Homo sapiens: one gene and its partners. The protein of the gene in region 3 purifies or fractionates together with the protein of the main gene of each other region. This does not show direct contact. Each region holds a gene or a part of one and is shown on either strand. Other genes may lie near its edges.

Evidence for each region.
Region 1: the proteins of CTR9 (region 3) and G6PD purify together in Homo sapiens (affinity purification with mass spectrometry; one large-scale study listed by BioGRID and IntAct). This does not show direct contact.
Region 2: the proteins of CTR9 (region 3) and CCNT1 purify together in Homo sapiens (co-immunoprecipitation; 2 studies listed by BioGRID and IntAct, with this or other methods). This does not show direct contact.
Region 4: the proteins of CTR9 (region 3) and URI1 purify together in Homo sapiens (co-immunoprecipitation; one study listed by IntAct). This does not show direct contact.
Region 5: the proteins of CTR9 (region 3) and VSX1 purify together in Homo sapiens (co-immunoprecipitation; one large-scale study listed by IntAct). This does not show direct contact.
Region 6: the proteins of CTR9 (region 3) and ALDH3B1 purify together in Homo sapiens (affinity purification with mass spectrometry; one large-scale study listed by BioGRID and IntAct). This does not show direct contact.
Region 7: the proteins of CTR9 (region 3) and CHD1 fractionate together in Homo sapiens (co-fractionation; one large-scale study listed by BioGRID). This does not show direct contact.

Annotation. Positions count from the first base shown.
Region 1 is NC_000023.11:154,540,347-154,543,846, reverse strand, and holds part of G6PD (glucose-6-phosphate 1-dehydrogenase), read left to right. Parts: intron 1-1,394; coding exon of another isoform or gene 1,395-1,583; exon of another isoform or gene 1,584-1,635; intron 1,636-2,455; exon of another isoform or gene 2,456-2,609; intron 2,610-3,500. Other genes in the region: IKBKG (NF-kappa-B essential modulator), read right to left, coding at 1,395-1,583. UniProt on the Homo sapiens protein: Catalyzes the rate-limiting step of the oxidative pentose-phosphate pathway, which represents a route for the dissimilation of carbohydrates besides glycolysis.
Region 2 is NC_000012.12:48,710,208-48,713,707, reverse strand, and holds part of CCNT1 (cyclin-T1), read left to right. Parts: intron 1-1,131; exon of another isoform or gene 1,132-1,457; coding exon of another isoform or gene 1,458-1,460; intron 1,461-3,500. UniProt on the Homo sapiens protein: Regulatory subunit of the cyclin-dependent kinase pair (CDK9/cyclin-T1) complex, also called positive transcription elongation factor B (P-TEFb), which facilitates the transition from abortive to productive elongation by phosphorylating the CTD (C-terminal domain) of the large subunit of RNA polymerase II (RNA Pol II).
Region 3 is NC_000011.10:10,777,746-10,780,246, forward strand, and holds the end of CTR9 (RNA polymerase-associated protein CTR9 homolog), read left to right. Parts: intron 1-933; coding exon 934-1,360; 3' UTR 1,361-2,001; downstream 2,002-2,501. UniProt on the Homo sapiens protein: Component of the PAF1 complex (PAF1C) which has multiple functions during transcription by RNA polymerase II and is implicated in regulation of development and maintenance of embryonic stem cell pluripotency.
Region 4 is NC_000019.10:29,983,739-29,987,238, forward strand, and holds part of URI1 (unconventional prefoldin RPB5 interactor 1), read left to right. Parts: intron 1-1,484; coding exon 1,485-1,563; intron 1,564-2,543; coding exon 2,544-2,679; intron 2,680-3,500. UniProt on the Homo sapiens protein: Involved in gene transcription regulation. Acts as a transcriptional repressor in concert with the corepressor UXT to regulate androgen receptor (AR) transcription.
Region 5 is NC_000020.11:25,074,963-25,079,141, forward strand, and holds the end of VSX1 (visual system homeobox 1), read right to left. Parts: intron 3,991-4,179; coding exon 3,867-3,990; coding exon of another isoform or gene 3,774-3,866; exon of another isoform or gene 3,581-3,773; intron 3,156-3,580; exon of another isoform or gene 2,904-3,155; coding exon 2,723-2,903; intron 1,589-2,722; coding exon 1,299-1,588; 3' UTR 501-1,298; downstream 1-500. UniProt on the Homo sapiens protein: Binds to the 37-bp core of the locus control region (LCR) of the red/green visual pigment gene cluster. May regulate the activity of the LCR and the cone opsin genes at earlier stages of development. Dispensable in early retinal development.
Region 6 is NC_000011.10:68,013,327-68,016,826, forward strand, and holds part of ALDH3B1 (aldehyde dehydrogenase family 3 member B1), read left to right. Parts: intron 1-1,970; 5' UTR 1,971-1,971; coding exon 1,972-2,133; intron 2,134-3,500. UniProt on the Homo sapiens protein: Oxidizes medium and long chain saturated and unsaturated fatty aldehydes generated in the plasma membrane into non-toxic fatty acids. May have a protective role against the cytotoxicity induced by lipid peroxidation.
Region 7 is NC_000005.10:98,901,508-98,905,007, forward strand, and holds part of CHD1 (chromodomain-helicase-DNA-binding protein 1), read right to left. Parts: coding exon 3,390-3,500; intron 2,402-3,389; coding exon 2,285-2,401; intron 1,458-2,284; coding exon 1,393-1,457; intron 1-1,392. UniProt on the Homo sapiens protein: ATP-dependent chromatin-remodeling factor which functions as substrate recognition component of the transcription regulatory histone acetylation (HAT) complex SAGA. Regulates polymerase II transcription.

The DNA of each region.
Region 1 (3,500 bases), on a different chromosome or scaffold from region 3:
TGGCACCCATCTGTAATCCCAGCTACTTGGGAGGCTGAGGCAGGAAAATCGCTTGAACCCAGGAGGTGGAGGTTGCAGTGAGCTGAGATGGCACCATTGCACTCCATCCTGGGTGACGGAGTGAGTGAGACTCCATCTCAAAAAAATAAAAATAAAAAGAGCCATACCTGCATCAGCCACAAACCTTAACAGCCAGGACTCTGACCGTTAAACCCTTAGTCCAAGAAGCAGACTGGAGGAGAAGGTAACTGAGGTTGCTTTCTCCATCCCCACCCCATGCTGTCACAAGGCACTGCAACAGAGCAACCCAGGCCACAATGATAGCTTATGACTCCTGGCCTTCAGCTCTTATTAGACACCTCATTGAGAGCATCCAAGCTTGCTGTGTGAGTTGGAGCAAGTGTCTTCCTTTTCCTGAACCTCAGCATTTCGTGTAGCAAATGACAGCTTTTGAAACGAGGGCCCAGGGTCCTTAGGCTTTTCCAAGCTGATTTTGTCATTTCACTGCCTCCGCCTGTGGCCAGCTTCGGGTTGGGCAACTTTGTTTTGTTGAAATCAGTAGGGTTCCCCTTTGCTCTCCTCTGTTCTGAGAGTGACAACCTGAGGCTTTCAAAGCAGAAATAGGAAGTGCCAGCTCCAGCACTGTGGGTAGGGGACAAGGGGTCCTCTCTCTGAAGAGCCTCGTGGTTTGTTTTTTCCTCTTCCTGCTGTGGGGGAGATGGGAGGTGGCGTGCTCAGGCAGCACCTGGAACAGCTCCGGCTCCCAGGCTTCTTCCACGCCTGATGCCTCACTCGGTGCGGGAGGTAGGCAGGGTGGCACTTGAGGGCACGTGATCCTAGAATCTGCTGTTCCAGGAAAGCAGCCCATTCTCCGTTCATTGAGCAGACAGCGATTGGGTACTTCTGGGCCACAGCAGCCAGTCCCTGCCCTCCTCATGGGACCTATGTGCTATTGCGGCCAGGGAACCACGGCAAGTAAGCAGACCAGCAAGAGTTCAGGCTGACGTGTGTTTCAGAAGATACACATGGGCCCTGTGTCCCCAGTCCCCCAAAGCGCATAGATCCCACAAAGAGGGCCGGGAGAGCACAAACACAGAAGGAAGAGCAAATGCCCGGAGCCCCGAGTTGGGAACAAGCTCAGCATGACCTAGAAACTGAAAGCAGGCAAGTGGCTGGCAGACCCACAGCCTGGGCAAGCAGGACACCCTGGGGCAGGCTGGACCCACGTGGCCTTCCTCTGTCCCTTCCTCCTCCCTGGCCAGCTTACCTCACACTTGCCCACACACCCAGCTTCCTTCCTGGGGGCCCTGATGGCACCTCAGAGTTACCAAGTGGGCCACTTCCTGCCTTCTCAGGACTCCCACCCCTACCAGAAAGGGAGCCGAGGTACTTACTGCCCCCTTCCAGAAAGCTCTGGCCTTGTAGACTAGTGTGCGCCTGGAACAGCATCTTTCCCCACCTGATGGGACCTCGATGATGCTGGAGAGCTTCACAGGGAGTGAGGGGAAGAGACTGGGATTGATAGTCTGCGGGGTCCTCACTTCTCTGGGCCTTAGTTTCCCCACCTGGATCACAAGGGCCATGGGCTTGATGGGCGTTCAGGACGCATCCCAATGATGGGCCTGTGGGAGGGATGACCCAGCGGCCCCCGCCTCCCCTTTCCTCAGAACATTTCTGGGCTGACTTCCCCATTGGTCTGATAAGATTCTTGCTGTGTCATGATGATGTTGGCACTCCCCCAAAGCCCCGGTGACTCATGAGCCCCCGGGTATAGCAGGGAGGCCCTTTTGTTGGTTTTTCAGCTGAACTAACTCAGCAGCCCCCAGGTTCTCTGGCCCCAGTGGCCAGGAACCAGCTGGGCCCCTGCCAAGGCCCAGGGCTCCACCCAGGGAGTCTGGGCAGGTCCTTAACCCCAGTGACCCTTGGGGATGGGATGGCCCACCCCCGCTGGCCCTCCAGCAGGCATCGTGCTCTACCATGAAACCCTCATGCCAAGACAAGGGCTGCAGCGATTTCGGTTTATAAAACAGACAGGTCATGGCCCAGGTCCCTTTGCCCTGGCCTAGCCAGATGTTGGTGGCTAGAGATCTTCATCATGCCCTGCTTCTACTAAGTCACCTTGTGTCCTTGGGCAGATCCCTCCCCTGCTGTGGTCCTCAGGAAAGAGGAGGGCGTGGGGAAGATGAGAAGCTCCCAACTGCTTTTCACTAAGGACCCCTTGAATTGCCCCCACCCACATGGCACGAGTAGACTCTTGACCAAGCTGTCAGGTTTCCCGATGTCTTCCCATGTTTGTTCCTCCAGAAAGTCCCACTAGAGCATCGCAGCCAGCTGGGAGGGCAGGGCTACCCCTGAGTCCTGAGGAGAGCAGCTCAGTCCGGCTCAGCTCAGCTTAGCTCCCTGTCACCATGGGAGAGAGCGGCCTGCCTTACCCCACCCCTACTGTCCGTCTTACCTCACCTCGCCTCTCAGGTGACTTGGAGCCCAGCAGACGGTCGGTCGGTTGCAGGGCCTGAGCTGAAACAAGGTGAGCCGGTTCAATCTCTAGTTAATCCCAAAGGGAGCAGCAGGAACAAACGGCCTGGAGCGTGGGGTTGCTGTGACTCAGCAGACCAGTCCCCTGCCACCAGTACCTTTCTGGAGTCTGTCCCGATGCCTCCCAGTCTTCCGGAATTTGGTCATGAGCAAACATGACCTGCTTTGAGTGAGGCTTAGAGGTATTTGCAGGCTGTGGTTCTTTCCGTTTATTTCAGGGTCCAGTTAGTTCCCAGTAAGCTGACCCTTTCTGTGTGGGGCCAGCCGTGAGTTGATGTGACATGGGCAACGTTCCCCTCCCCAGCCCCACTGATGGCAGGTGCTGTGAGGAGCTGAGTAGAGGAGCTCCTACCCCAGGGCGAGGGGTTGTCTGCTGGACTTTGAAGGGTGCAGCAGTGAGAGGTCCGTGTCGCTGTAGTCCTGGCACCGAGCTCACCTGAGGAGCATCAGAAGTGGAGCAGGGCCCCTGAAGAGCGCAAGCACACAAGGCACCCACACCATAGCAGTTGCCCTCCTGGAAGCCCTGTGGTGGCTTCCTAACTGCCTGGCTCTGGGTGAGGGCGTTTGACCTGGTGGCATGGCCCCCATTCTGTAATGGTTTGTAGAAATGGACCCATCCATGGTTGCAGTGCCTGATTGCTTCGAAGAGCATGTGTTTTTTTTTTTTTTTTTTCGTGACATGGAGTCTTGCTGTCACCCAGGCTGGAGTTTGGTGGCGCAATCTTGGCTCACTGCAACCTCCGTCTCCTGGATTCAAGTGATTCTCCTGCCTTAGCCTCCTGAGTAGCTGGGATTCCAGGTGCCTGCCACCACATCCAGCTAATTTTTGTTTTTTCTTTTTTTTGAGATGGAGTCTTGCTCTTTCACCAGGCTGGAGTACAGTGGCGCAATCTTGGCTCACTGCAATCTCCACCTGCGAGGTTCAAGCAATTCCCCTGCCTCAGCCTCCCGAGTAGCTGGGACTA
Region 2 (3,500 bases), on a different chromosome or scaffold from region 3:
GGCTCAAGCAGTCCTCCTGCCGTAGCCTCCCAAGTAACTGGGACCACAGGCTTGCCAACATATCTGGTAATTTTTAAAATTTTTTTTGTGAAGATGGGGTCTCCCTGTGTTGTCCAGCCTGGTCTCAAACTCCAGGGTTCAAGGGATCCTTCCGCCTCCGCCTTCTAAAATGTTGGGATTACAGTCATGAGCCGCCATTCCTGGCATTAATTTTGAAGTAGTTTATAAAATATGGTCACAGCAAAAGAAGTAAATGTAAGTTACTTAGATTTTCCAAAAGCCTTTGATAAAATTCCAGTCAGCAGTTGGAGGGGAAAGCACATTATGTAATAATAACTGGGAAAATGACTTTTAAGAACATGAAAAATAGGCTATGCATGGTGGCTCATTCTTATGTATAATCACAGCACCTTGGGAGGTTCAGGTGGGAGGACTGATTGAGCCCAGGAGTTGGAGACCAGCCTGGGCAACACGGTGAGACCCCGTTTCTACAAAAAAAAAAAAAAAGGTAAAAAAAATTTTACAAAGAACAGGAAGAATAAAATTATACTAATAAAGAAATTTTATTTTTTTGTACAGAATTATAAATAGTGATCTTTTCAGTGTAGCTATTTGAAATGGTCCTATTTAACATTATTATAAATGACTTGGAATTGAATGCATAGTGATATCCCAGTTCTAGGAAGGACTGTATTTACTTAATAAAACGCCAAGGTAATAGGGATAAACTTGATGAGTACTTCATATGGATTGATTTTTTTTTTTTTGAGATGGAGTTTCGCTCTTGTTGCCCAGGATGGAGTGCAATGGCACGATCTTGGCCCTTTGCAACCTCCGCCTCGCAGATTCAAGCAATCCTCTTTCCTCAGCCTCCCAAGTAGCTGGGATTACATGCATGTGCCACCACACCTGGCTAATTTTTGTATTTTTAGTAGAGACGAGGTTTCACCACGTTGGCCAGGCTGGTTTTGAACTCCTGACCTCAGGTGATCTGCCCGCCTCAGCCTCCCAAAGTGTTGGGATTACAGGTGTGAGCCACTGCACCGGCTGTATACTTCAAATGGATTTGTGAGTCAAGTATTTCCCTGCTTTTTTTTTTTTTTTTTTTTTTTATTTTTTTTTTTTTTTAAGGAAAAGATTATCCTGCTGGGCACGGTGGCTTAAGCCTATAATCCCACAACTTTAGGAGGCTGAGGCGGGCGGATCACCTGAGGTCGGGAGTTTGAGACCAACATGGAGAAACCCCATCTCTACTAATACAAAAATTAGCCAGGCGTGGAGTTTCATGCCTGTAATCCCAGCTACTCAGGAGGCTGAGGCAATCACTTGAACTGGGGAGGCCGAGGTTGTGGTGAGCCGAGATCGCTATTGCACTTCAGCCTAGGCAACAAGAGCGAAACTCCATCTCAAAAAGAAAAAGATTATGCTTTTGAGGATGCTTATTTCGTATCCTTAGAATGGTGGGTTTTCAGATTTATTATTACTTTTTTAATGCTGTAGAAAGAGAGTTTATGAAGCTAGACATAGCTCCTGAAATGTAAGAAACTGGCAGAAACAGTATTGGGAGTAACTGCACAGGAAACTTTTTGGATTTGTGAATTAAGATTTTTGTGGGCCAGGTGCCGTGGCTCAACGCCTGTAATCCCAGCACTTTGGGAGGCCAAGATGGGCGGATCACGAGGTCAGCAGATCAAGACCATCCTGGCTAACATGGTGAAACCCCGTCTCTACTAAAAATACAAAAAAAATTAGCCGGGCGTGGCGGTGGGCGCCTGTAGTCCCAGCTACTCGGGAGGCTGAGACAGGAGAATGGCATGAACCCAGGAGGTGGAGCTTGCAGTGAGCCGAGATCGTGCCACTGCACTCCAGCCTGGGCGACAGAATGAGACTCCGTCTCAAAACAAAAAGAAAAAGATTTTTGCTGATGATCCACCCAGGTTGGCTTTCTTCTGCCCTTAGCCCCTGTACCTCTAGTCATGCCCTGGAGCTTTGCTCTGGCTCTGATTGCAAGGAGTATATCCTTCTTATTAAAAGAGAGAGAAGCCTGTTAGCATTTAACGAGGCTATCTGATAGCACCAGAATAGAAGGTAGTGAGTAGTTAAAAAGTGAAATTTGAAGAGGAAATTCCTAGCCATTTTGCCAGTTCTGAAGGTTTTCTATAATTCTTCCCTTTTATTATGATAAAGACTTGAAATTTGGGGTGAAGTGAATCTCAAATCAAAAAAAGAAACTCTCAAATCAGTTTGTCCACTCTTCATGTATAGGTTAATATATATTTTCCCCTCCTTTTAACTTTTATTTATTTATATATTTATTTATTTATTTTTGAGATGGAGTCTCACTCTGTCACCCAGGCTGGAGTGCAATGGCGCCATCTGAGCTCACTGCAACCTCCACCTCCCAGGTTCAAGCGATTCTCCTGTCTCAACCTCCCAAGTAGCTGGGACTACAGGCACCCGCCACCACACCCAGCTAATTTTTGTATTTTTAGTATAGACAGGGTTTCACTATGTTGGCCAGGCTTGGCTTCAACTGTTGACCTTATGATCTGCCCGCCTCATCCTTCCAGAGTGCTGGGATTACAGGTGTGAGCCACCGCGTCCAGCCTTATCTTTTAAGTTATATCTTTTTTTATTTTTTTGAGACCTGGAATCTCTCTCTTTCCCCCAGGCTGGAGTGCAGTGGCTGCGCGATCTCAGCTCACTGCAACCTCCGCCTCCTGGGTTCCAGCAATTCTCCTGTCTCAGCCTCCCGAGTAGCTGGGATTACAGGCGCCTGCCACCACACCCAGCTGATTTTTGTATTTTTAGTAGAGACGGGGTTTCACCATCTTGGCCAGCCTGGTCTTGAATTCCTGACCTCACGATCCACCCGCCTTGGCCTACCAAGTGCTGGAATTATAGCCATGAGCCACTGTGCCAGGCCATATCTTTTTATTTCTTATCTGTTAAGCTTAACAAGGACAGAGATTCCCTTTTCTGTATATTCTCTAAAGCAGTTTCAGTAAACTTATTGAATGAATGGATGATCTGGTAGTTATCCAATATAGAGATATTCTTTCAAACATTTTTATATATATTTATTTTTTAGAGACGGGAGATCTCGCTCTGTTGCCCAGGCTGGTCTCAAACTCCTGGCCTCAAGCTGTCTTCCCACCTCAGTCTCCCAAAGTGCTGGGATTGCAGGCATGGGCCACTGCACCTGGCTAGTATAGGGATATTCTTTTGGATGTCATGACCTTTTTCAAAATCCACTGATTAATTTGAAGTTGTTGATCCTTTTTAGAGGATTGATTTTAGGCACATTTTGGAATCAACAGATTCCAGATTTAATATCACCTTTTAACATACTAATTCTAAGTTTAGCTGTGATGAATCCAAATTTAAATGTGAGAGGACTTAATACATTAAATGTGGCCTAATAATCAATGTGGCATTGATATGTTATATATCCTGTCAAGTCCTCAGGCATTTTTGTATGTGTGTGTGTGTTTTTCTTA
Region 3 (2,501 bases):
CCCAGGGAAGACCCACAGGTCTTTAATATGTATACAGAAAGAGAGTAATATATTTCACCTCCCTCACCGTTCCTAGACCGAACTCTGTGGGATTCAGTATTCCTTTATTGGAATATCTGTCATGAAAACCAGAACTAAGGAACGTGCCAGAGAAGTGTGCCTGCTCCAAAGGAGCGGTCACCGTGGTTAAGGGAATGTTCTTTCCTCAGAGCCTCCAGGAAGCCAAGACTCTGAGGGTGCTGCCACCATTCTAAGCATAAGCATGACTTCCCCTTTCCTTTCACTTATCAACTGACAAGTAGAGGGGAGAGCTTGGGAGCAAAGGGAAATAAACCAAAGGGCCCCTTTAGCCCCAGTTCCCTATCTTGAGCAAGTCTGGTCATGGTGGAGGGGACCTAGTGCAGTAGCAAATCTTAGGACAGGAATAATGACCTCACTCTTCAGGTACCTGTTAGCACCGATGGCAATAGGACAGGGAAATGTCCTTTGAAACCCTTTTCTGCCTTTGGAAAAGGGTTAATTCTTCAAAGTCTTCAAGCCAGTTGAGATCCTGGATTTCACCTTTGTTGCTGTTAATTTGTGTACAGAGATAAACAAATGTATCCCTTCCTTTTCATAATTTTATATATGAAATTGGGAAATGCTTCATTCTGATGAAAAGTGTCCAGTGAGTCACCATCCCTGTTTATATTTTGACTTATAGCTAAAGTGCCTTATCTTTTTTTCCTTTTTAAACCTTTTTGAGTTGTGAAATATATCACATTTACAGAATAGTACACAAAACAAGTATCACAGAATGATACCTGTGTAACCACTATTTAGGTCAAGAAATAGAATATTAAATGCCCTTCTGTTTTAAAAGCACATTGTCTGCTCATCAAGGCCCCAGTTAGCCAGAATCCTCAGCTTCTAACCAATGATCATCTTTGCCAGACATCCCAGGAACAGCAACAGCAACAGTGACTCAGACGAGGACGAACAACGAAAGAAATGTGCCTCATCAGAGAGTGATTCCGATGAGAACCAGAACAAGTCTGGCAGCGAGGCCGGCAGTCCCCGGAGGCCACGAAGACAGCGGTCAGATCAGGACTCAGACAGTGACCAGCCATCCAGAAAGAGAAGGCCCTCCGGTTCTGAGCAGTCTGACAATGAATCTGTGCAGTCAGGGAGAAGCCACTCAGGAGTTTCTGAGAACGACTCTCGCCCAGCTTCTCCAAGTGCCGAATCAGATCACGAATCGGAGAGAGGATCTGATAATGAGGGTTCTGGCCAAGGCTCTGGAAATGAATCGGAACCAGAGGGATCCAACAATGAGGCCTCAGATAGAGGCTCAGAACATGGGTCAGATGATAGTGACTAGGTTTTATTTCATCAATAAGCTTCATCTCTGGAGGAAACTTTTTTAATATATGAAAGCTGTGATAAAAATGTTTCAGATGTTTAGTCAATTGTGAAATTTTTCTTAAGGCAATTTTCTTTTCTATCAGTTTGTATATTACTAAGCCCCAAGAGACATTTCCTGTGCTAGAGTCCAATATTTGAGTCTCTCGTGCAAATGAGACTATTCTTTGTGGTACAATTCCACCTATCATATGTGAAAACTGCAGTAAAAATAAACCCAGATGCTAAATCATTCCTACAAAGGTTTGACTGAAACTGTGGCAGATGTCTCATCTTCTTTATATGTTAAGCAGCATACTCTTCTGATTTTTATTGCAATCTTTTACCAAGTGGTGCACAAACTTGGTATTGATGTCTTTATTCCATTTTGAGTTTAGATTGAGAATATTTTTATTTTCTGAAGGCAGAGATATCTACTGTATAATTGCACCAAAGTACATTTGAAAGGAAGGTTTTCAATAGTGTAATACTGCAGCGATGTAGATAAAATCACAAATGTATAATGTGTTAGGTTGAATAAGGTGTGGAAAATGCTTTTCTGTTAGTAGAATGCAAAAACCTACCTAAGCCACATAATAATAAAATTCTTTTACCAACTTTTATGGGTAACTTCGTGTCTTTTTTTGTTCGATATATTTGTGCATGGCAGTGTAGCATAAATTATGCAAATATTTGAAAAATCCTACATTAAGCCTCAAGACTTTTATAATTCTTACAGATTCGTGGAGTGTTTATTTTAAAGATGCAAGAAAACTAAGGTACCAGCATGTATTTTTATTTTCAGTAATTCAGTAATTAACACTAATATTTTTATGTAGTGGTTTGTAAGAGCTTTAATTATTGTAGTCAACAAGTATTATTAAATGTGCTATATTAGCCATTGAGGTGAGAATGCAGAGATAAAGTTCCCTTCTTGTCTTCAAAAATTGAGTAAAGATAAATTTGTTGTTCCTGTGGTGTGAGAAATAGGGTGATGATGTTTGCACAGGTTGTGGGAGCAAAAAGGAGGTTGGAAGAAGCAGTGAAGACAAGGTTTCTTGAAGGACAGGAGTCCTGAGATGACTCAGCCTGAGCCAGGGCTCCTGCCTATACCTCAGGAT
Region 4 (3,500 bases), on a different chromosome or scaffold from region 3:
GCCTGGTATTACTCAAAAAGAAGGGCTGTTCATTTCCAGCAGGTGTTAAGAGCTGAGTAAGGCCCATAGCATGGAAATACGATCATCTCTGCCCCTACAGAGTTACATATACCTTTTGGTTGTTTGAAATTACTTATTTGGTAGCTCTGTTTGATGTAACAAGAAACAGACTCCTAGGCCAAATTGAAACGCCTTTTGTATTATCTCTACTTAATTTCTTCTACCCCCAGTTGATTCTCTCTTACCTTAATCACATTATTATGAATAATTGAAGAGCTGATGATGCATTTTTCAGCCTAAGGTTTTCTGATGAGGACTAAAGCATCTGATCAAATTTCATGTTCATGATTTCAACTTCACAGCCAGTATCTATTCACTCAAAAGCTTTATTAAATCTCTTCTTTCGGCCGGGTGTGGTGGCTCATGCCTGTAATCCCAGCACTTTGGGAGGCTGCGGTGGGGGGATCGCTTGAAGCCAGGAGTTCGAGACCAGCCTGGCCAACGTGGCGAAGAAACCTAATCTCTATGGAAGATACAAAAATTAGCTGGGCGTGGTGTCATGCGTCTGTAGTCTCAGCTACTCAGGAGGCTAAGGCAGGGGAATCACTTGAACCCAGGAGGTGGAGGTTGCAGTGAGCTGAGATTGTGCCACTGCACTCCAGCCTGGGCAACAGAGAGAGACTCTGTCTTAAAATAAATAAATCTCTTCTTTTTTCATCTTGAGTCCCTTCTTCTCTCCAAATATCAGGCCCTCTTTTACTGTCTCCCTTAATTTTCACATTTTATTTGGTCCAGATAGTCTTGTATCTTAAAAAACAGTAATTCTCAAAATTTGAGTATTCTGCTTCTAAATGCCAGAGTCCCTGAAGAGTCTTAATTCTTCAATAAATGTATGGTAGAATAATGCCATTGCTAAACTGTATAAAAACAGGATTTTAAAACTAAAAATAAAACCACATTAATCTTGAATTTGCTAAAATTATGTTTTTGATTAGCTTGTTTTATGATACCTGGCCTACTGGGCCTCCCAAATTGCTGGGATTACAGGCGTGAGCCACCACACACGACTGAAAGAAGAGATTTAATAAAGCTTTTGAGTGAGGCCAGGTGCAGTGGCTCACGCCTGTAACTCTAGCACTTCAGGAGGCTGAAGTGGGAGGATCATGAGGTCAGGAGTTCAAGACCAGCCTGACCAACATGGTGAAACCTCCTCTCTACTGAAAATACAAAAACTAGCCTTGCATGGTGGCGCACACTTGTAATCCCAGCTACTCAGGAGGCTGAGGCAGGAGAATTGCTTGAACCCGGGAGGTGGAGGGTGCAGTGAGCCGAGATCACGCCACTGCACTTTAGCCTGGGCGACGGAGCGACACTCTGTCTCAAAAAAAAAAAAAAAAAAAAAAAAAAAAAAAAAAAAAAAAAAAAAAAAAAAAAAAAAAGAAAAATCGTTAATAATGTGTGTATTTGGTGTTTTCTGTCAACAGGAAGAAGGTAGATAATGACTATAATGCCCTTCGAGAAAGACTCAGCACCTTGCCTGATAAATTGTCTTATAATATAATGGTATGTTTGGTGTGTTTCTTTTAAAGTAATAGTTGTTTCTTGTAAACATATTAACTATGTGTCGGTTCACAGAATGTCAGGCTGATGGACTGTGTCCAAGGTAACTATGTAGCAAGGAAGATTTGTTTTGTTTTACTTTATAAGAACACAGTAATTGTAGTAATTGTTGGTATTTACCTTTTTTTTTCAGAATATATATGGTGACACAAATGACATAAATATTAGCACAAAATTGGACATATTTCAAATGGAAACTTACTATATAAAAAATGTAATTATGACAGAAATATGGTACTAAGTCGTTTCTTGTTAGCCAGAGCAGGAATAGGCCATAATGTTTTGTAATTCACAGAATTAAACCTTAGGACATTGATTTTTATATAAAAACGTGCTGCTAATTTTTGTTTTAATGATCTTCACATCGACATAGTGATCTGTTCATGAGCCCTGGATTAGAGCCTTTCATTGCATGAATGTTCTTTCTTATGAAGACTTTGTTCTTTTATACTAGTCCAAGTATTTTGTATATATAGCTAGATAGATCCATTAAAGCTATTTGTTTACTAATTCCTGCTTTGCAAAAGTGTCTACTTTATTGAAAATAATTTTTAGTTTTCTTTATCAAAAGTATTTTGCATTGACAATGTTTCACTACTAGTTGCTTTCACTTAGATTTGCAAGTGAATGAAAAGTATAAACATGCCGAGACAGTACTACTTTCTTTAAGAGCTATATGTAAATATGGTGTGGATTTATTTTCCTGTTTTAACATTGATTTATGAACATAAAGCAATTTTCTTTAGATTTTCCTAGTAAAATTTTAATATAGTGTTGAATTTCTGTGAAGCTGGCATTTTATTTTTCCCAATGTATAAATAAAAAAATTCAGTTATGTAAGGCTTTTAATGCGAAGTGTTTTATAAAATGTACTTTTCAGTGTTTTATGTTTTTTCCCTTTTTTCTTTTTTTTTAAACAATAGGTACCATTTGGCCCTTTTGCCTTCATGCCAGGAAAACTTGTCCATACTAATGAAGTCACTGTTTTACTGGGGGACAACTGGTTTGCAAAGTGCTCAGCAAAGCAGGCTGTAGGTTTAGTTGAGCACCGGAAAGAACGTAGGTACCCATTTTAAATGATGTTTCTTTGTTGTATATGTATCCATTCACAGATTGCCAAGCTGAAGGGCTGTTTCTTACCAAAAGTACCTTCCGTGATCTATGAATCCAGGCTGTTTGTGATTCTGTTGAATTGTAGGTAGTTTGAGTAGAACCAACATTTGAGAATGAGCTGGAGAATGGAGCATCCGGGTTGGAAATGTCACCTACATTGGCATGTTTTCAGAAGTTACAAAGTTTCAAAGTCATTATGTGATTTTGTAGTTAGAAGTTGGGAAGACATAAAAATTGGAGTCATTTTATACCTTATAATTTTTTTTTAGTTGCTATTATAGACTTATTTTTGCACTTAATACTTTAGTACACAGAAATAATGTGTTTTCTCCTTAGTGAACTAAGAGAAATACCTGTTTACATAAGTAGACAATTCTTAAAAATGCTTTTTGGTTTGGAAAAAAAACCATATTTTCATTTGATAGAGGAGACCAGGTGTGAAAAGGTGCTACCTAAAACAGCACCCTTATCCTTTTTCAGTTGTTTGAGTTCTCTGCATCCCTTTATTAGGGCAGCTCTTGAGTTTTGTTTATCCGTGCTATTATCTGTAGGTGTATAGAAGCCTACATACACACACACAACACACACTACACATTTTGCAGTTGGATGAGCTAGCTTGGGTTCTAGCTTAGTTATATTTTAAAATTAGGTTCAGTTTATAATCTGTTGTTATTTCTGTAATACGTATTTAGATTGAGAGTATAATATCCGCCCTACCTGCTTTTTAACCTTTTAGTTAAATGTGTATTTGAAAATAAATGATGGGA
Region 5 (4,179 bases), on a different chromosome or scaffold from region 3:
CTGTTAGCCAGAATTAATACAAGAACATAGGGCTTATCATTTTCTGTTGCTACAGAAAGGAACTGGTGATGTTTAATTTTCCCAAGAGTATGGAACTAACATAGGATGAGAAAAATAGGCCAAAGGGAGAGAGCTTCTGTTTTCTCACCTGCAGAGATGGGAGCACCAAGCCTAGCCTGACAGATCACTGGGCCAGTTCCCAGAGAAAGCCCTCACAATGAGCAGTTCCACACTTTCCTTGTACTGCCCTTCCTTCTTCAGGAAGCACCATATTTTCCCATCAACTAGAAGGTATCTTTCTGGCCTCTGAACTCCAAAGAGTGTATCAGACACAGCTGCTGCCCCAGAGGAGTTGACAAGGCAACACATGGTAAGAGCTGCAGCCTGAAGAATAAAACATGTCACATGTCCCCAGATTGAGAAGGGGTGAAGGGAGAGCCTGGCTGGGATCAGAGATAGTGGAGATGTACAAGTGTGTAATAGAGGAGTGCCTTGAAAAGTAAACACACCACAAAATGTTTATTTTTAAAGAATAAATAAATGGCAAAGGAAACGCAGGAAAGGAAAGATTTACAAAATCCAAGTCACTAAAGTGCTTTCAATCACAAATTTTGAAAGACCAAAAGCCTGGTCTGACCTAAAAACACTGTTTCCAGCTATCCAACAATTGTTTAAATATGATCCCATGCTATTTTTAAAGGAAATGCAGAAACGACTAGAGTATGGGTTTCTTTGAATTCCAATATGCATAGCCTATCAAGTGACACTCAAGAAAACACAAAATTACTCCCTAACAAGAAAATTGAAATATCCAAGGCCAAGTTCAAGGTAAAGACAATATAATTCATTCATGTGTCTGTATGGAGTCTTCACTATGATGATATCAGATTCTTCTGGATATTAAACAATTTTATATTTCCTAATTGAGAATGAGGACATCAGACCTAACCTATTCATCTATACAGTACATTGAACCACACATCTCAAATGATGCCCAGCAGTGAAATCATTTTTGAACTTCGGATCCTCCCTGCTCAAGCTACAAAAGAGAATCAAAAGTTTTGCACCAAGTTAACTGGTTAAAGTGCCATTAAGGAACCGTTTCCATTCTAGAATGAAATAGAATTTTCCCTAGGTCACTCATCTGTCCTCTTAAAGCAAGTGGCATTGCATTTTATCTTGACATTGTCAGAAGAAAATCAAACTGAGAGTATATGTCTTGGACAATTTTTGTCTTTTGGAAAATGCCAGTGAGGAATATGCACATTTTCAGCCTTTGACAGTGGGACCTGTGGGTCTCATGTGGCTCCCACCTTCCCTGGCTGGGGCCCCTCCAGTGCCGTGGAGTTGGAGCCTCCTTGAGCACCAGCCCCAGGGTGCACTTTCTTGGTCTCCTGCCGGGCAGAGCTGGAGAGGTCAATAGCCACATCTTCCAAGCCATTCTCAGGGCTCACTTTATCTGAGCCTCTCTGTGATCCTGACTCACTCTGGCTAGAACCTTCTTTGAAGTGGTCAGAGCCCCAGAGTCCTGCCAACTTATCTTCACTTCCTGGCTTCCTTATCATCCCCATGGATTTTTTATGCATCCCTTGTAAAAAAAAAAATAAAAAGGAAAAAATAAAAATAAAAATTTAAATTCAGCAATGAAGTAAATTTCCTTCTTATTGTTCTCTAAATCCCACTAGAATTGTCCTTGTCAGTGCCTATCTCTGGGGCCTACAGGAGAGGCAGGTAGGTAACTCCCACCTTAGGGGTTTAAAGCAGGTGTCTGACCCCGGGTCACATCCAGCAAAGGTGTTTAGGATGACACAGTGATTGGCATTGGGCCCACTTTCCCCTAGGCTGCGGTCTCGCAGATGCCAGTAAGTGCCCTCCCCCACCTGTTTGTGCAATTTCAGATGAGCCAGTTTGGGTCACTGCCTACAATGCTCCCTCTAGTGTTTCAGTCCTTGAGAGCAAAGTCAGGACATATCTATGATTGGAACCTCCAGTGCCCAGGATAGGGCTGCTTGGTAGCTGTTCAAAAACTGTTCGCTGAGCAAAAAACTTCCTCCATCTAAACCTAAAATGCCACCATGATCCTCCTAACTAATTACCCCGTGCCCGGAGGTACTCATCTGTGACTCATTCCCACAATCTGTGATCCCTGCCTGTTGGTTTCTGGCGACAGCAAACAGGGCAACAAGGGTGGAGCATCCTGAGAGTGCTGGGTCTCAGCAGCGGAGACTCTTTGAGCACCAAAAATCTAAGGGACAGAAAAGCCACTCGGCAGGTTGTTCATGGCAGAACCAAGCCCGGGGCCAGCCCTCCTGACTCAGATGGAGGGGCTCACTGTCCCCAGGGGTCGCTGCTCAGCACTGCCCTGTTTCCTATTACCAAGTGCCCTAAATTGTATGGTTTCTAAAAATTCTAACAGCATTCAACACTTGGATGCTGTTAATGCAATGATGTCATTTCACCCTTAAATCCCAAATACATATTTAGCATGCATAGCCCGGTGAGACTTCCACACAGCCTAGACAGTCTCTGTGAAAAATGAGGCAACCATCCAGTTGCTGCAAGCTTTGTTATTAATTAAAAATAATAAGAACGGTTCTGGACCTGAATCTCAGTAAACTGACGTTGCTTTGCTTTGGAAATGGCTGCCTCGGTGGGGACACCCTGGGATTCCCCCACCTCCTACAACACCTCGAGCCGTGCGATCCCGGGGGCCCTTCCTTACCCAGGAGCCAGGGCGCGCAGGAGCCCAGCAGGCCGCCCTCGGCGGAGTTGAGCACGGAGTCTGGCAGCGGGATGCAGTGGCGCACCATGGCCCCGTACAGCCCGTACTCGGCCATCACGCTGCTGCCGCCCCAGCGCTTCTCCCGCTTGCGCCATTTGGCCCTGCGGTTTTGAAACCAGACCTGGTTGGAGGCAGGAGAAGCAGAAGGCACACAGAAGAGACAGTGAAGAGGGGCGCCTGGAGGAGCGGAGGCGGCGTCCCAGGGCTCGGATCTTCTCTCCCGAGCATGATCCCATGCTATTTCTGAAGGAAATAGCTCCCGAGGGCCAACCAGCCGCCCTCAGGGAGAGCGCCCAGGAGCCCCCAGCAGCGCCCACGTGCGGTCCGGACTCACGGGCATTCAACGCAGTAGGGACACTTGTGACCACGTCCACTGAAGTTTCCATAGAGTCAGGAATGAAAAAAACTAAAGAATCAAACTCCCTTTTCCCACATTGTGTGAAGAGGTCAACTACAGTGTTTCCTGCTTTTTCTCATTAATTGGAATGAGCTCACTGGGGCACTGGCTCCTTCCGAGCTTAGGCTATTGGGTTGCTGGTGATATTTCTCATTAAAAACATTATGTTAATAAAGGACTATTATGAAATACGGTTTAGCTGTTAAAAAAAGAGTTAGTGACATATCTTCTGATAAAACCAAGAGGAAAATTCTATGTATGCATGTGAGTGTGTGTATATATGCATGTAGATATGTATATGCACATACATATTCAGGGGCAGATAATATACTCCACAAAGTAGAGAAAGGTCTCCTCAGGCATTTGTGTTGATTTCTTTCAGGGTTTGAGATGGAGAGGTAGTCTCTTTTTTTTTTTTTTCATTGACATATCTTTATAGTTTCTAGTTGCAGCACACATTATCATGTGATTTTAAAGAATGATTTGATACTAAATAATAATAAAATGAAAAAAGGCATGAGGGTCATAGGGGCAAGCTCTTGTGGTGCCTTCAGCTAAGGGACCCTCAGTTTCTATGCAAAGGGAGCGTGTTGGCTATAGAGAAGGGACTGCTGATTGGCTCACTGAATGTGGGAATGACACGTTCTCTGTGGTATCTTTGGAGCGGAGAAAAGGGACCCCAGACACCTGTATCCGGTCTTCGGGGAGCTCAGTTTTCACAGCCAGCATTTCTCGGGCATACACATCAGGGTAGTGGGCCTCGCTGAATGCCTTCTCCAACTCTTCCAGCTGGTGAGCAGTGAAAACTGTCCTGCAAGGACCCCAAAACACACAGGTGGGCACATGTCCCCTGGGGACAGCAGCCTCCCTGGCCTTAAGGACCACCGTGCCTGCTTCCTCTGCTGTCCAGACCCTAGAAGCCACTTCATGATAATGGAACACCCCACCTCTGAATGATTAGCTGATGTCCAGAAATTTGATTCAAACGAAAACAGTTCTT
Region 6 (3,500 bases), about 57 Mb from region 3:
CTGCAGAACTCCATCCCCCACAGAGCTCCCGGCCCACAGTCCACCATTCACGTTACGTGCCTTGCATTTTTGTGGTTTCTGCAGAGATTCTTACAAAGGGTGAGAGAGGCACAGGCGTGGTTTGCCTTTGACCACTGGCAGAAGTCTGAAGGTGAGAGTAGAATGGAGAAGGACCCAGGAGAGTGCGGAGTTGAGGGAGATAAATATTTGCAGGCTACTTAGCAAAACACCCAGAGCTGACCTTTGTCGAGTACTTTCTGTGGGCACAACAGCAAATGTTTTATGCAGCGTGATGTCATTTAATCCTCACAATGACACCAGGTGCCATTAGCATCCCCATTTCACAGATGAGGAAACCGAGGCAGAGAAGGTGAGTGATTTGCCCAAGGTCCCACAACCAGTAAGAGGCAGAGCCCGGAGACAGGCCTGATGGTGGCTCGAGAGGCTCGTTCTTGGCTCCTGGGTCTCAGTCCTGCTCCCGTGACGAGCCATCCCCTATGGGGACCATGGTGCCTGTCCTGTGTGCGGGCCACTGCCCAGCTTCTCCCAATCAGAGCAGGAAGATGGTGGGTTCAGCCTGGCCCCACAATCACTCCAGCTGAGGGCTGGCCTGGGGCTCCTGACCAGGCTCTCAGTAGCACACTGGTCCAGCAGGGCCATCCTGCAGACCGGAGCAGGTCCCGCCCTCAAGGTGGCCACTTAACAATCACCCACAGCCTTGCGCTCACCGATGCTGGGCCCTGGGCTCAGAACCGACTGTGTGGTCTCATCATTAGCTGGCAGGTGCCATCATTACACCGGTAACATGAGAGGCTTCAAGCACTAGGTCTCAAATAAGTAGGCACAGAGGGGCCTGCCTCCCAGTCTAATGAGGGGGAAATAAGGGAGATGTGGACAGGGTTGGGAGGTGGGTAGAGTGTAACCAGACATTTATCACATGGCACAACTCAGAACGCTGGGGAGCAGAGTCAAGGGGCCACTGTGACAGTGGATGAGGGCATAATCTGGGTGGGCTGCCTGGAGGAAGCATCAGCCAAGCTGAGATCTGGAGGAAAGGGACTCGGAGAGGGAAGGAGGAAAGGGTCACCACGGGTCCTTGGCACCAGGCCGAGGAACGAGTGCGTCAGAGTGCTCCTCCGATGAACTTCAAGTAAACAGGCAGGGCTCGGGGGAATGTCTAGGCCCCTACCCTGCCTGCCAGCTCTGGCTGGCACCAGCACGGAGGCAGGAACGCCCTCTCCCCCGCCCTGATCCTCTCCCCCACAGCTGTTTCTGCCTCCCAGCACCACAGCCCCGGCAGGGTGGGCAGCAGGGCCTCCAGGAGGCCCGAGGTGTTCTCCCCCTCTTCCTGAGGAAGCTGAGGCACAGGGAGAAGAGGCTATTGCCCACTGGCCTGGCCTCCCTGGGCAGTGCCCCCAGGCTGGGGACAGAGGAAGACGGAGAATTCTGTGTCTGGAGTGCTCCAAGGTGGTGGCCATGGTGGCAGTGAGTCACCCCCTCTACTCATCAAGCTCCTGCTTACACCATTCAGACTGGCAGGGGTGAGGCTGCCCCGCCTCCAGGAGGGGCATCAGGGCAGGGCAGAGGCCATGGCTTGGGGTTAATTTCTGTGCGGCAGGAAGAAGCATGGCGCTCTGCCTGCCTGCTCACCCTCGGGGGCTGTGGTGGAGCAGCTGTCCCCAAGCCCACACCCAGTCCTGCAGCCGCCTCCAGGTCCATGGCAGAGGGGAGTGGTGCGAGGGTCTTCATGTGTGTCTGGGAGTGCTCACTGTTGGGTGAAAGGGGTTGCAGGCAGCCTCAGTCCCTGTGGGGTCATCTGAGTGGGTCCCTGTGTGTGTATAAGGTAGAGGTGTCTGCAAGCCCCTGTGGGTGCAGGCAGGTCAGGGGTGCCCAGACCCTGGGGCGGCTGGGTGGTGCCCATGAAGGAGGGGCAGCCCTGGCCACCCAGTTCATGCCACCCCATCTGGCAGGATGGACCCCCTTGGGGACACGCTGCGGCGACTGCGGGAGGCCTTCCACGCGGGGCGCACGCGGCCAGCTGAGTTCCGGGCTGCGCAGCTCCAAGGCCTGGGCCGCTTCCTGCAAGAAAACAAGCAGCTTCTGCACGACGCACTGGCCCAGGACCTGCACAAGGTGGGCTGGGGTTGGGGGTATGAGAGGGTGCACTGGGGCAGGGGGGCATGGAGGGCAGCTGGGACAGCAGGGGATGAAGACACCTGCGCCCTCCATGAAGCGGGGCTAAAAGCAGCTCCTCCCCTAGGCCAGAGCCACCCTTGCACATTCATCCAGTCACTTATTTCTGTATTCATGCAGCAACTATTTGCTGAGCACCTACTATGTGCCAGGTACTGTTCTAGGCTCTGGGGATATAGCAGAGAATAAAACACAGTTCCCATGCCTACGAAGATGACCTTCTATCGGAGACAATAAAACAGCAAATAAATAATTGCACAGCAAGGCCGGGCATGGTGGCTCACACCTGTAGTCCCAGCACTTTGGGAGGCCGAGGTGGGCGGATCGCTTGAGGCCAGGAGTTCAAGACCATCCTGGCCAACATGGCGAAACCCCGTCTCTACTAACAATACAAAAATTAGCTGGATGTGGTGGTGGGCACCTGTAATCCCAGCTACTCAGGAGGCTGAGGCATGAGAATCGCTTGAACCTGGGAGGTGGAGGTTGCAGTGAGCCAAGGTCACACCACTGCACTCCAGCTTGGGCAACACAGTGAGACTCCATCTCAAAAATAATAATAAAGATAATAATTACACAGCATATTGGGTTGAAATATGTGCCCTGGAGACACACCCAGGGTGAAGGGGAGAGAGGGGGCCAGGATCAGGGTGCTGTTGTATATGTGGGGGTCAGGGAAGGTTTCTCTGAGAAGGGGGCTTTAGAGCAGAGACGTGAAGATGGAGGGGAGGCTCCCCATGGATGCTGGGGAGATGGCAGCGGGCACAGCACGTGCAAAGGCCCTGAGGCAGGAGGTGCTGGGTGTTTCTGCTTGAGGAGCAGCAAGGAGGCCAGCATAGCTGTCGGGGGTGGGAGAGGAAGAAACAGCAAAGATGAGGTCTGGGGTATGGGCCACACTATGTAGGGCCTCGGAGGCCGTGAGGCCTTGGCCTTCTCTCTGGGTACAGCAGGCATCATGGCCTCTGTCTAGACCCTGAAGGCTTGGGGCCTCAGCCCCTCCCAATCCCAGTGGCAGCCAAGGCAGAACCCCAAGAAACACACTTCCCCCAACCCCTCACCCATCAGGGCCCATGCACCTGCCTGCCCCTGCCTCAGGACACCTGCCCCTGCCTCAGGACACCACCTGCCCCTGCCTCAGCACATCTGCCCCAGGGGCTGCCCCCGGCTCCTATTCTCTGGACAAAATATCTCCTCCCTTTGCCTTGAAGGCTGTAGTGTTCAGACCTTCCCCCAGCCCATTGGGCTCCCTGGGGACTGACTCCCCCGCCACCACTGAGCTTCTGCCACCGGCCGCCTGCCGGCCTTCATGA
Region 7 (3,500 bases), on a different chromosome or scaffold from region 3:
CATAGACTTCTCTCACAACTCTAGTTTTGCTAATCACTTAGTTATACGTCAGTGAACAGCAAATAAATGATATTTTAATTTTCATTATAGATGAAAATCTCATAAAATTATTCTACTTGCCCTCTCAAAAAAGAGATACTAATCCATGCCATTTTAATCCTCGAGAGGTTGTGATTTTGAAAAACACCTGTTTAAACTGATTTTTTAAATAGTGCACGTTCATTAAGAAACATAGAAAAATTAAAAAAAAAAAAAAGAGCAACAGTAGTACCATCTCAAATATTCAATCTGAGTACCTTACCTGTATTATTATTTTTAGTCTATTAAGTCTATTTCATTCCAATCAACATGTAGAGAAAAATAATGGATGTTAATATTTTGCTATCATAAGAAGTTCAAATGAAAGGCACACATTGAATTCTTACAAATACACTATATCCTATTTCAGCTATGCTTCTGCTTCATTGCTCTGTATCTTTTGCACCAATTGTAACTATGATGAAGGCTACATAAACAAGCATATATGATAAAATCTGCTTATGATAAAAACATAGTAGAAGCAAATTTTTTACTTTGAGATCTTTTCAGGGCTTGCACACCGAAAAAAAGTTTCCGTTGTGTATTTTTATAATGGAAAAAAAACTGGATGATCCAATATACATCTATTAATAGGAGGACCAGAGAGATTTGTAGAAAGAGAAAGGAAAAAAAATCCAAAGATAAATGATTGAATTTTCAGAATAAAAGATAGAACAGACTAATAAAAGATACAAATCTTCGCATTAAAAATGCATGAATCTTTTTTTGGGAAAAATAAGTAACAAATCTAATATGCAGAATATCAAAGGCAAATAGGAAAATAAAAGACAAGAAAATGGAATAATGTTTCCAAATCATTAAAATAAACATGGATTGAGAATCTGAAGTATTCTTAATACTTTCTGGGTCCAGATCTTTAGGAAATTACAGTGAGTTTCTAAAATGAGTTCTACGGTATGAAGTAAATTTCACATGCAACTGAATAGTAAGGATAGCTATTAATATAATTATAAGAACCATCCAAAATCAGTCATCCTGTCATCCCTATACTCCTATATTCCCAAGTTATTAAGATTTTCTGATATTACAACTAGGGAGATCATTAAAGTTTAAAAATATATAGGGGGAGTTACAGGAGATAAAGAAATGGCATAATACCCTCAGGTGGTCACAGAAAGATAAATGTTAAAGATTTATCTTTAAATTGTGTAATGGTGTAAATTAACTTCATAAAATGCCATGAACTAAGAATTTAGAAGAGTCTCCTTTTGGCAACAATTTTCATAAAGAAAGAAATATGAAATAATCAGGATTTTTCTAAAATGAAGTAGTCAGTTGAACAAAATGACATACTCTTTATGCTTTTTCCTTTTGACCTCACTTGATGAGTCATCGGAATCTTCACTGCTAGAGGAATCCTGTAGAAAAGAAATAAAGTCAGTATCATCCACTAATGATTAGAATTTAACCATATTAAATTTTTATTTGCTATACTATTTAACATTCACTTTACAAATAACAGCACTTGTGAAGCCTTTTTTCAATGTAGTTTTATTTATGTTAACTAGCTGAAAGTAATAACATTTTTATTGCAAATTAATATAGCCAGTGAAATTAAGTAAATAGCAAAATGTCAGCACTTTGTATGAAACCTTAAAATCTACCCTCACTGGAGACCATTATTGTTGCCTAGTATAGCCAAAACAAGAAATCCTAGGTGCCAACATGCCAAATTTTGAATTTTTTCTTCACCATTACTTTTTGTTATAATTTTTCCTGAATGTTTTTGTGCAAACATACATGTATGCATGCTTGCACACACACACAAACTACATTGTGTATAGTGGCCATCTACTCTTTCAAAAATATTATGTTGAGATTTCTGTTATTATTTCGTACAAATATGATTTAATGATATAATATTCCTTCATTCATACATGTATATGCGTGTAGGTGCATATCACATTTAATTATTTCCCACAGAGTTCACATTTAGTTTATTTCTAATTTTGCTGTAATGAGCAAATGCACACAAATGTCCCACTGCTTATTTTGGATTAATCCCTAAAATTGGAATTACTGGATAATGCAAAATCTGTATTTCAAGATTCTTGATATATACACTTAAAGTATTTCCTACTTATTCTTTCAAAGCACTTATTATTTTTAATAATTTCACAAATACTAGTTAACTGATTCAGCAGCATGTCCACTTTTAAAATAATAGCTCATGATGAAAATGCACCTCTTCTGATCCGCTATTAGATGAGGCTTGATGTTGTTGTTGCTGCTGCTGCTGTTGCTGCTTCTTGAGGATTGCAGATCTCTGAACGGCCAGAATACTAGGACTAGATTTCCAAAACTATAATAGAAATATAAACCAGTGAATGAAGAAGTATTAAGAAAACTGCAAAAAAAGGTTAATTTATTGAAAAACTATACCACCATCTTTACTGCCTCAAAGTAATAAAGACTATATTCCTTACCTATATGTAACACAATTATCATTGCAATATAGTTAAATAAAATGCTGAGCTCTAGTTATGTATAAAAAAAAATGGTGTGTTGAGTTCCACAGACAATATTAATCAATATCCTCTTGATGCTAAGAGTATTATTTGTATTAGTGCTACTCATAGTGTGGTTACCTATTTTATCAGTGTGAGGTGAAGAGGCTGAGTCAGAATATACGTCAACGATGTCACTAGGCACATTGTTTTAGCTCAGATTTGAGCGGGGGGCCGGTAGCAACATTTTTCTCTATGAAGGAATCTGTGTGTCGATTTATATTCTGGCCCTCAAGCATCTTATCTCATCACAGACTGGTACTCTGAGTAACACTGTATACTACCACGAAGTATAGACAAGTTTTTGTATCTCTTGTAGTTTTTTCCAAACAGAATAGCCCCTTACCCTATTCCATCATTATCTTTGAGGAATCTGAGTTCCATTAAATTATTCTGCTAGTAGCAATAAAGTATCTCCTTTGAAGCTCTTGAAAGTAGAGATCATAACACGGTAAGGTTAACAAGTAGACCTCACAATGTCTTAAATTTGTATCTATGACACAATGGATATTTATGAAACTCAATTTCTGCCTAAGAGGCAGAAAACGTTTTATTTGCCTGTGTGTAATTTACACTTTGTGTTTTCTAGTTCGAAAATGCATCTATTCCAAGCCAATTAGTCCACAGGTGTACCACCATGAATGTGAGAATCACTAAAAGTAAATTTTAATTTAAAATGTTGTCTTCTCTAAAAGCTAGATTAAGAATGGTATAAACCAATCCTCTAAATTTTCCCAAAGTAATACAAGCAATCTACCTTTCATTGGGTATTTTATTGATTACCTCAGCTCCATCAACTTTCGGTGGTTTTGCTTGAACTTTGTTTTCTCGGGAAGTGTCTGACTCAGACTCTGACTGACTGCCTGATTCAGATCCGGAGTCAGAGTCACTGCT